Homo sapiens: one gene and its partners. The protein of the gene in region 1 interacts with the protein of each later gene in a pairwise test. Each region holds a gene or a part of one and is shown on either strand. Other genes may lie near its edges.

Region 1 (4,301 bases):
CCATATGTATGATCAAGAAATCACTGGTCTTCTAGCAGCCAAAACGAATCAGCTCAGGGTCAGTTAGGCCACCCTGCTGCTTTAGAATGAAAAGGTAGATGGCATAGCAAGGTTTGGCTGACTAGAAGAATGTTTCACATTCAGAAAGAGGCCTCCCTTATTGGGCAGTATATTCCTACTGCAGTGCTCAGAGTATTAAAGAGGGCATTGCTCAGGTCCTGTGGGAGGACTTGTGCATTGGGCCAGATTAGTTCCTGTAGAAGTGTTTACTTCTTTCTCGGTATGTGCAAAACTCTACTTAAGTGTGGTTTTCTCCTTAAAAATCTCTTGTTCTAAGGTTCTATTATAATTTTTATTTTGTCACTTTTTATATTGGCAGATAATTTGGCTTCAGTTTGACTGTTTCAGTCCATTTCATTTTTAAAAAACTTTTATTTAATTATATATAAAACATGGTTGCCTTCTATTAGTATAGAGTATTAAATAAGACTGTGATCTGCAGTTTTGTAATGTGTAATCAGATCATTCTCTTTCAGAGTGACAGCATTTTTGCTTTAAATTCATCATAGCATTGTGTAAAAGTAAAAATGCCAAAAATTAAACATGAAATCAAAATGGAGTATATTCAAAGTATTTTCTTAATTTTTATATATTATAGGAGATGAGAATGAATATGGAAAATCTAGTTAGGAATGAAGATATTCTACATTCAGAGGTGAGAAGAAAAAGTCATTCTATGTTATGTGAAATGAATTGAGTATCCTAGAATGTAAAGCTTAATTTTGATGCATAAGTAGCTAAATTTTTAGCAAGTATATTATCAAAACTGATAGTCCATGTATATTTTCCGGTGATAACAAGTCACAAATAATGTGCTTTGAAGCAAAATCTCACAATAGGTAAAAATTGGACATTCAGTTTGTGTTTGGATTTTTAAAAACTAGGCTCTCTTGAGATATTGAAGCTATTTACCACATAATTACTTACAATTATTTTAAATTTCTGCAGGTATTTTTAAAAAAAGTTCTAGTATTTATTACCAGAATTGTAGCTTTGCATTCTAGGATACTCAATTCATTACCAGAATTCTCTTGTCATTAACAGAAATTGGTTAATTCCACTAATTAATAATGTTGAATTTTAATGTTATAAATCAGAAAATTTTTAATCAAAATTGAAAGAAAAGTAATGTATTAATTTTGAAATCATTTAAAAGTAAAAATCAATTTTTTGATTGTAGGAAGCAACACTAGACTCAGGCAAAACACTAGCTGAAATCAGCGATCGTTATGGAGCACCTAACTTGAGCAGAGTGGAAGAACTTGATGAACCAATGTTTTCTGATGTCAGTATCAGTGTGTTTTGTGAAAAAACTCGTTTTTGTTTTTGTTTTTGATTTTTTTTACTTAGGTAAAGCCTAGGGAAAATGAGGCTAGGCCAGGATTGGTTGGCAAATAGGCCTTTTGCTTCAGAGAAAGAAAATCAGTTCCCTGGTTGCGGATTATATTCCTAATTGGCATTCTGCCCTTTTGTGAAGTGTGTCACTGGCTTATCTATATCTCCGTATCTGTGACTTCAAAACCTCTTCAAAATATGTTTTAAAATCATTTTGTGAAATATATAATCTTTAAATTTGGTGTGGGGGGCACGATTTTTGTTCTCAGTAGCAAACCCTGGAACCAAATTAATGCCTTAATGAGAATGCATGCTTCTCCAGTATGTAAGTACATTTGTTTATTTAAGAAACATGCCACATCTTCCATATGCCAGGCACTGTGCCTGATGCTGTGGTGAATAAGGCAGATGGCTTTGACCTTATGGAGTTTATTGTCAGGGGAGAAACAGACAATTAGATGAACATTTAATAGTCATGGTTAGTGGGACCACATAATTTATTGTCCAAACCAGTATGCTTTTGAGAATGAGAGCCGGATCAGCAGATGTAAGCCAGGACTGTCCTGGAAGAAGGGTACATTTTGGTCACTTTAATTGGTGTACACGGACAAGGGGGGACAGCCAGCACAGTTGAGGAACCTCAGTCAGGGAAGGAAGCTAATGATTTGCTACTCACTGGTGGCATGGGAGGCTGAGGATAGTGCTCCAGGCAGAGAGCATGGAAGGTGTGAAGACCCAGATAGGAGAGCGTGTAGAGGGAGTGAGGCAGGGAGGGGTGAGAGCTGAGGCCAGGGAGAAAGCAGGGGCCAGACCATGAAAGCACTTGTCATTTCTGTTCAGAGGCTTAGATTTTATCCTGAAGGCAGTGGAGACTCATATGATGAGAGCTACATTTTGCAAAGACCATCTGGTAACAGTGTGGGGAAGAAAATGGAGAAGTAGGTGTCAGGAGATGGCTTAGGAGGTAGTAATCTAGGGGACAAGATGTCGATGGCCTGAAGTAAATGTTGTTTTCAAGAGCTGTTCAGAAAATGGAGCTGCACAGACTCAGTGCTAATTGTTTAAAGTTTTATTAAAGGTCAGCTATGATTTGGCACTATGCAGGGAGCTAGAAAATGCCAATGAACAAAATGGATTGGGCTTCTGCCCTTGGGGGCCGTGGGCCAATGGGGAAGCTTCTTTGAGGGACAGAGTAGGGAGAGACCTGACCTGGGCTGGACAAGTCTTCCTCAGGAGGTGAAGTTCAAGGAATTAGCCTGAGATGAGCCCAGAGGAAAGAGACAGCAAAATGCTTTCAAGGGACTGAAGTCATCCAGTATTAATGGCTAACGTCCATGGAGCTAGGAAAATGGTGTGATTTTAAGCTGGAGAGGTGGATAAAGGCAGAGCACACTGGGTCTTGTATGTTGCCTTAGGGATTTTGGACTTAAGTGCAGTAGGAGTTATTGAAAGGACTTAAAGATTCAATCTGTGTTTTTATAAGGTGGAGAGAGGATTGGTGTGGAGCAGGAGTGGAAAAAGGGAGACCACTTAGGAAGTTATTGCACTGATCCAGATGTAAGATGACTAGGGTTAGACAGCAGAGATGGAGGGAACTGAGTGGATTTAAGATTGGCTTACAGGATCAGTGCGGGGCAGGGTCAGGATGAAGCCTAAATGTCTTCCTTGGGCTACTGAGTTAAGAGTGTTAACATTTGATGAGTTGATGAACATAAGAGGAAGCAGGTTTTTAAAAAATGATGGCTTCAGTTGCAGAGATGTTGACTCTCAGGTGGCTCTGAGATATGCAGGTGAAAACAGCCAAGAACAGTTGATGTTAGGAAGGGGCCCAGGCCGGAGATATAAATTCAGCAGTCATGGGCATATGTGCTGAATGAAGCAAGGGGATTGAGTAAGGTACCTAGGAGAGAGTGCAGTGTGTGAAGGCCTGGGGGCTCAGGGAGGAACCATTAGCAATTCTAACATTGAAGGGATGGCCACAGGAAGAGGAGCCTACAAGAAGGATGAGAATGCATAGTAAGAGAAGTAGAAGAAAGGATGGAACAATAACTACTTTGAGAACATAATTTATGGTTATATTCAATTTGAGTATCATTTGAAATCATCTGAAACTCCCAAAAAGTTTCATTCATGTAGTCACATAGAAGTTACCTAAAGTTTATTTCTTTGGCTTGTGCCTTTTCACAGTTCTAATTGTATTAAGGAATATTTACTTTTTGTTTTGCTTTTAGATTGCATTAAACATTGATCAAGATTTGTAGGACCAACCAACCTAAGAGCAATAAATGTTTTTGTTTGTTTCAAATTTCAAACCATGAGGTTCCCAATTTGTATTTTTTTCCTTCAAACTTGAACTCCCCTTTTTTTTTCCTCTAAGGACTGCTTATGAATGGGCTTCAAGAGTAGCCTCAAATTATTATTTTGGATCCTTCAGTTCAACTGGTTATTTATACATTTCCATTGGGAAAATAGGAGAGTTTGCTGAAGCAACCAAAAGAGGCAAATGGGAGGTGAGCTGAACTAATATGTGCGTCTATGCAAGAGCAAGACTGCCTGAGAGGACAGTTGCTGGCTGGGTGCAGTGGCTCACACCTGTAATCCAGCGATTTGGGAGGCCAAGGCAGGTGGATCACTTGAGGTCAGGAGTTTGAGACCAGTGTGGCCAACATGGTGAAACCCCGTCTCTACTAAAAATACAAAAGAAAATTAGCCGGGCGTGGTGGTGGGCATCTGTAATCCCAGCTACTTAGGAGGCTGAGGCAGGAGAATCACTGGAACCCAGGAAGCAGAGGTTGCAGTGAGCCAAGATCATACCACTGCACTGCAGCCTGGGTGACAAGAGTGAGACTCCGTCTCAAGAAAAAAAAAAGAAAAAAAGAAAAGAAAGTTGCTGGTCCGTGAGAAGT
Region 2 (3,650 bases), on another chromosome or scaffold:
TTTCAAGGTTCATCCATGTATCAATAGTCAATTTCTTTTTATTGCCAAATAATATTTCATTTTGTGATATACAACATATTTATCCATTCGTCAGTTGATGAGCATTTGGGGTGCTTCCACCCTTGGGCTGTTGTGAATAGCGCTGCTGTGAACACTGGTCTACTTGTATCTGTTTGAGTCCTTGCTTTTAATTCTTTGGAGTGTGTGCCTGTAGCCATTGAACTGTTTTCCACAGTGGCTGGAACCAGTTTACATTCCCACCAGCAACATATAAGGGTTCCAATTTCTCTATATCTTTGCCAACAGTTGTTATTTTCTGGGTTTTTGTTATGGCCGTCCTGCTGGGTGTGAAGTGGTATCTCATTGTGATTTTGATTTGCACTTCCTGTTAGCTAAATGATGAGCACCTTTTCTTGTGCTTGTTGGCCATTTGTGGATCTTCTTTAGAAAAATGTCTGTTCTTAAGCCAGCGCCACACTGCTTTCATTACTGCAGCTTTGTAGTAAGTTTTGAAGTAAGGAAATGAGAGTCCTCCAACTTTGTACGTCTTTTTCAAGACTGTTTTGTCTATTCTAAGTCCCTCAAGTTTCCATATTAATTTCAGGATCAGGTTGTTAATTTCTGGAAAGAAGCCAGTTGGCATTTTGATAGAGATTGCATCAAATTTGTGGATCAATTTGGGTAGTATTGTTCATGAGCATGGGGTGCGTTTTCCATTTATTTAGGTCTTTAATTTCTTTACATGATGTTTTGCACTTTTGTTTAAGTTTATTCATGAGTATTTTCTTTATGATGCTATCATAAATGGAATCGTTTTCTTAATTTTACTTTCAGCCTTCTCATTGCTACTGTATAGAAATACAATTGATTGGCTGAGCGTGTTGGCTCACACCTGTAATCCCAGCACTTTGGGAGGCCAAGGCGGGTGGCTCACCTGTGCTTAGGAGTTCAAGACCAGCCTGGCCAACATAGTGGAACCCCGTCTCTACTAAAAATACAAAAAAAATTAACGGGGCATGGTGATGTGTGCCTGTAATCCCAGCTACTCAGGAGACTGAGGCAAGAGAATCGCATGAACCCCAGAGGCAGAGGTTGCAGTGAGCTGAGATTGCACCGCTGCACTCCAGCCTGGGTGACAGGGCAGGACTCTGTCTCAAAAAAAAAATTGATTTTTATACATTGATCCTATATCTTGCGACCTTACTAAAATTGTTTATTAAGTATAATTTGTTTAGTAGATTCCTCAGGATTATCTACATATTAGGATCATGTCATTGGCAAATAGAAATCGTTTTTCTTCTTCCTTTCCAATCTGGATGGCTTTGATTTCTTTTCTTTTCTTTCTTTCTTTTTTTTTTTTTTTTTGAGACACAGTCTCACTTTGTCACCCAGACTGGAGTGCAGTGGTGCAATCTCGGCTCACTGCAGCCTCCGCCTCCCGGGTTCAAGTGATTCTCCTGCCTCAGCTTCCCATGTAGCTAGGATTACAGGCACACACTACCACACCCAGCTAATTTTTGTATTTTTAGCAGAGACGAGCTTTTGCCATGTTGGCCAGGCTAGTCTTGAACTCCTGGCCTCAAGCAATCCTGCCCGCCTCGGCCTCCCAAAGTGCTGGGATTACCGGTGTAAACCACCGTTCCTGGCCCTTCGATTTCTTTTTCTTGTTAATTTGCTCTGGCTGGAGTCTCTAGTACAATGTTGAATAGAAGTGCCTGTGAATGTCTTTCCCTTGTTCCTCATCTTAAAGGTAAAGAAGCTTCCAGTCTTTCACTAGGGGGTATAAAGTTAGCTGTGGCTTTTTCATAGCTGTCCTTTATCAGGGTAAGGAAGTTCCCATTCTATTCCTAGTGTGTTTTTATCATGAGAGGCATTGGATTGTGCAGTGCTGCTTCTGTGGCTAGTGAGATGACCACATGGTTCCTTTATTCCACGGATGTGGGTTGTCACAGGCACTTTCGTGTGTCATGTCGGAACCTCAGCCCCATTCCTATATTCCAATCATGTCCTCCTAGTTTGGAAAATCTGGGACCTCCCCTGAAAATGGAGGATTACTGCGTGTTGAGTTAGGAAAAGGAAGCAGGCTGGTTGCCCAGAATGGAAGGCAGGAAACAGCATGTCCCCAGCTCCGGAGCCTTTTCTGCAGCCCATGTCCCTCCACTGCCACCAGGCCCCCTTGTCATATATCTCATCGTGGTCCACACTCTGCTGAACTTGTCTTGGCCTTGGCACCCCCTCTCTGACACCATGATGTGCTTGCTAGCATCCGAGCACGCCGGAGATGGTCAGGGGATAAACCCCTGGTACTTAGGACTGGTCTCCCGCCCATCCTACTCAGGCTTTACAGGGGGAGTGGGTCAGGACCGCCTGTCATCTCCCCTCTGTCCACATCGAGGGAGGCCAAAGGACAGCTGGCCAGCCCTTCTGGTGATCTCCCAGGCATTCTTGCCTAAAGCACCTGCATGTGAGCCCCCATGGTGCTGGCAGCCATCCTGGGTGCGTGGCATTCAGCAGGGAGACACTGCAGACAGGGCCTTGCCCCTCCCCCAGACTCCCCTTTTGTTGTTGTTGTTGTTGTTGTTTGAGACAGAGTTTCGCTCTTGTTGCCCAGGCTGGAGTGCAATGGTACGATCTGGGCTCACCAAAACCTCCGCCTCCAGGGTTCAAGCGATTCTCCTGCCTCAGCCTCCCGAGTAGCTGGGATTACAGGCATGCGCCACCATGCCTGGCTAATTTTGTATTTTTAGTAGAGATGGGGTTTCTCCATGTTGGTCAGGCTGGTCTTGAACTCCCGACCTCAGGTGATCCACCCACACCGGCCTCCCAAAGTGCTGGGATTACAGGAGTGAGCCACCACGCCTGGCCCCAGGCTCCCCTTTTTGTAAGGGGGAGACCATCGCCAACATGTAGGCAACTGCGGGGGAGAGAAAGTACTGCTTGAGTGCGGGAGCGTGGCTGGCAGCCAGTGTCCCCTCTTCAGCGACGTCTTCCTCCAAACTGCTCTCCCACCCACCAAGCCAGGTGGCTTCTCTGGCTCCCTCCTGCTTGCATGGGGGCTTCCTGTGAGCAGGGATTTGGGTCTGGCATGGGCACTCTGCCTCCCCGCCTCACCAGCACCAGATGCTGCCAGCACATCCACGCTGGCCTCCACCCTTCCAGGGGAAAGCTGGACTCTCAGTCAACTCAGTGGTTCTGCCGCAGAAGCTGACTGGGGAAGAAGCAGGCTCTGAGAAAGTCCTTGTGGAGTGGAAGAACAGAGGGCTGGACACTGAATTCTGACTGCCATCTTCTGGACCAGGTCATCCTGTTTTGTGTCATTGTCCCAAGATTGTAGAATGCCCTTTCCCCTCTCATCTCGGGGTTCCTGAGGACTGTCCAGTCTGCTGAAATGAAATTCGATAGTGCCAGAGAGCAGATTCGTGGTTGCAGGGATGGGCAGAGGGGCATGAGGACACTTTTGGGGAAGATAGAAATGGCCACTGTCCTGACGGTGGTGATGGTTCCCCAGGTTCATGTATGACATATGAACACCTGCCCTTTGCACACTGAAGATGTGCAGGTTACCACCCAGCAACAGACCTCACCAAAGCTTTAGAACAGGAACTCCATGGCCACATGCACGCATCCTGGGGAGAAAGGTGTCCTTTCCT
Region 3 (3,650 bases), on another chromosome or scaffold:
TTTTGTGGGGCAGGTCAGGCTGTTGGACTAGCTCACCACACGAAACTCTTTGTTCAATGAAGAAAAGTTATTTCTCAGTTTTAGCCAAGCTCCTTTCCAATTGAGGGCTCTTGTTTATGTTGTGTCCCTCTTCTTGGAATGATTAATTGCTCACTGTCCCTCCTTCCCTACCCTTACCCCCTCCTCACTCCTAACCATTTTCCTGTCCAATTCCTACTTTTCTTCTGGTCTCAGCTTGAATTCTTACTCCATTAGGGAAATCTATCCTGATCCCTTTATCCAGGTAAAATGTACCTATCATGCATTCTTCCAGGGCCCCATAAAGCTGTACTTTGCTTCTGGAGCACTTCGCCTCATGTAAATTGTGCAGTTATTTGATTGATACCTGACTGGAAGCCCTGTGAGGGCAGGGAATGTATCCAACAGTATGGCAGCCCTGGCACCTACCATATTGCTTCCCATACAATAGATACCCAGTAGGGTTTTGTTAATGAATAAATGGAGGGATGCCAGGGAACTGTCTTTTATTTTGTATGTGGCTGCCTTTCAATGACTCCCTTGAAGGAAAGAAAGCATATATCCTATATTTGTGGGTCTCTGTAACAAAATAGTCCAGAGCTGTCTAATTGAGATTCTGACTTTTATTTGTGGAAACTGATTTTGATCTGAAAATCCTACCAAGATAATCCCTATGCAAACTAGTTCCTCTAGACTTTCTAATAAGGAGCCTTGGACACACAAAGCTCATCATTCTTCCCAGAAGAAGATTAGGTCAGAATTGAACAGTCGAATGTATTTATATATTTTTATTTTATACTGCTGTCCACAAAGGTTACACCAGAGGCTTAGAGAGGCTCAGAGACTTACCTCGAGTCCTCAGCAGGTGGGTGGGTGAGGAGGTCCTACACCTACCTGATACCTTGGACACACAAAGCTCATCATTCTTCCCAGAAGAAGGGTAGGTGATAGCTTGGAGACTGGCTGGTGGTAGTGGTAGGTTCCGTGTTACAGTCCCACAGGGTCTTCTCAGAAGGGAAGTGGGATCCTCCCATTTACTGCCTTCTGTGTTGTGTGTGAAACTATTGACATGGCTTGCTTAATTACCAGCAGTTACTGATAAGACAGACTCCAGGCTGGCTTTGAGATTCAGCCACCCCAACAGCATTCAGGAAGGCAGCAACAAGGTCAAAAGATGCATTCATTGCCCTCTGATTGAATAGTGCAGGCTTTAGAGTTGGAAGCTGAGGCTCTTTGCAGATAAGCAGAGACTCTGTGGCTGCCAAGTCTATAACAATTTGACCATTTTTTTCAGGGAAATCTACAAAAATGCCAAAATGTTTACAAATAGGTACTTCCTGCTTTTGTACATTGTATGAAAACATGGGACATCTCTTACTGTTTTGGTTTCATTGTGAGAACATACAAAGCAGAGGTTGGAGCTCTTCTCCTAGCCCCTGCTGAGGAGTTGGTTGCTTTCTTCACCACAACCACTTTTCCCCCACAATAAAGATCTGTGTTGATTGTAAAAAATTTGGAAAATGCACAAAAACACTAAGATAATTCTGCCACCCATAACTAACATTTTTGCGTATATCCTTACAGACTTTTTTCTAAATATTGTGTGTGTGTGTATATATATATATATAACAAAATAGAATTATTTCGAGCATATTGCTTTGTCATCCCTTTTTTCCCTTCATTAATGGTATATCCTATCAAGGATACTGATTTGAGAAGCTGCATATATTCTGTTTATGGCTGTGTCATAATTCATTAACTCACATTCTTATATCTGGGCATATAATATTTGGTGTGCTTTTCTGTTTGCCAGAATTGTACACACCATTGTATTGAACATCCCCGTATATGAATGAATATATGAATACATGATTTTTTCCTTATTGTCAATTCTTTGAAGTAGAATTGAACAGTCAAATGGATTTATATACTTTTATACTGCTGTCCACAAAGGTTAGAACAGAGGCTCAGAGAGAGGCTCAGAGATTTATCTGGAGTCCCCAGCAGGTAGGTGGATGAGTAGGTCTTACACCCAGACGCTGTGCCCCCTATCCTTGGCAGGTTCCGGCAACCCAGGCCAGGCCCTGTTGCCTGTAAGTCTGGAACTCAGATCATCTACTGATGTCTATAAAGGGCAACTGTGTACCTTTCCTGGCCTCCTTTCAGTGATTTAATAATTTCAGTGGCTTTTTAATTAACTGCTGTTAGGGTAATTGGTCCAGGTCAAAACAGGCAGGAAGTTGCCTTACTCAACAGGCAGAGAGCCTCTGATGGCCTCAGTGGGCCGCTGCAGGGGCCCCATGACTGGGCTCTCCATGCCAACCTGGGTTCTCATCTGAGGCCCCATTGTTCTCCCTCCACCCCCTCCCTTACCAATTCACCTCTTCCATATGGCCTTTCTCAAACGCTGGTGCCACTAACTTACCCAGAAACCTTTGCTCACCGTCTATTGTCCACACATCCTCCTAGGATTGACCTACACACTTCCAACCAGACCACCTGGCTGACAGGGTGGTCCCAGGGCTTAGAGAGCATGCGGCCAGGTGATTTCTGGTCCTGCCTGCCTGCCTGTGATACCATTAGGCAGGCCATGGTGGTTATTCCTGTTTCAAATGCACATTCAGGAGTTGTTAGTAACTGAGGATAAATGTGTTTGTTTCTGATTTGGCCATCCCTACTTTTCTTCCAACAACTCTAAAAAAGTGGAGAGCAGCTGCAGGTGGAACTAGGCATCTCTCTATCCAGGCTTAGGTGGCAAAAGGAAAGACTCTGAGGTAGGACAGCCTGGGAAGATTCAGGGGTGCAATGTCCAGGGTGGGAGCACCAGAGGAGTTGGCCTGAGTGGAAACCCAGCTCTTCGGGTAGAGCCAGGCCTTCCAAGAGACAAATTAGCTGAAGGCCTTACTGGTGGCTGAGCGAGGGAGGTGGGGCCAAAGGAGAGGAGGGTGGCCTTCCATATACTCTGCCTGTTGAGTAAGGCAACTTCCTGCCTGTTTTGGCCTGGACCACCCAATTACCCTAACAGCAGTTAAAAAAGCCACTGAAATTATTAAATCACTGAAGGGAGGCCAGGAAAGTTACACAGTTGCCCTTTATAGAGGTCAGTAGATGAGCTGAGTTCCAGACTTAGAGGAACAGGAAGCCAAAGTTAATTGGTGCACCAATTTTTAAATTAATAGCCACACAAAATAGTATTGTCTTTCTTATCTTCAATAGACCTCTAAGTTGGGTGGCAGGACATGTGAGAAACCTGGGCACAGAGGCCAAACGTGTATCCACACAGTGCTTCTCAACTGGGGGCATTTGCAATGTCTGGAAACATTCTTGGTTGCCACACCTCCAGGGAGTAGGGGTGCTACTGGCATCTACGGGTAGAGGCCAAGGATGCTGCTAAACATCCTACTGTGCACAGGGCAGCCCCCACAGCAAAGAGCTTATCCAGCCTCAAATGTCAATAGTGCCAAGGTTGAGAAACTCTGGTCTATGGGAACAAAACTCTGTAGGCCTCTGGACAGTGGCAACTAGAAGAAAACCCCAGGAGTTTCACAAGGACATGTGGCCCCCAGATAATAAAGGGCTGGCCCCTTTAAAACATGTCAAGAAAATGTGACAGCTTTAAAAGCAAGATGATG

The links.
Region 2: the proteins of DYDC1 (region 1) and PDZD4 interact in a two-hybrid assay, tested with the Homo sapiens proteins (one large-scale study listed by BioGRID).
Region 3: the proteins of DYDC1 (region 1) and ARNT2 interact in a two-hybrid assay, tested with the Homo sapiens proteins (one large-scale study listed by BioGRID and IntAct).

Annotation. Positions count from the first base shown.
Region 1 is NC_000010.11:80,335,511-80,339,811, reverse strand, and holds the end of DYDC1 (DPY30 domain-containing protein 1), read left to right. Parts: intron 1-658; coding exon 659-715; intron 716-1,240; coding exon 1,241-1,345; coding exon of another isoform or gene 1,346-1,396; exon of another isoform or gene 1,397-3,626; coding exon 3,627-3,656; 3' UTR 3,657-3,707; downstream 3,708-4,301. UniProt on the Homo sapiens protein: Functions as part of axonemal radial spoke complexes that play an important part in the motility of sperm and cilia. Plays a crucial role during acrosome biogenesis.
Region 2 is NC_000023.11:153,823,932-153,827,581, reverse strand, and holds part of PDZD4 (PDZ domain-containing protein 4), read left to right. Parts: intron 1-3,650.
Region 3 is NC_000015.10:80,410,877-80,414,526, forward strand, and holds part of ARNT2 (aryl hydrocarbon receptor nuclear translocator 2), read left to right. Parts: intron 1-3,650. UniProt on the Homo sapiens protein: Transcription factor that plays a role in the development of the hypothalamo-pituitary axis, postnatal brain growth, and visual and renal function. Specifically recognizes the xenobiotic response element (XRE).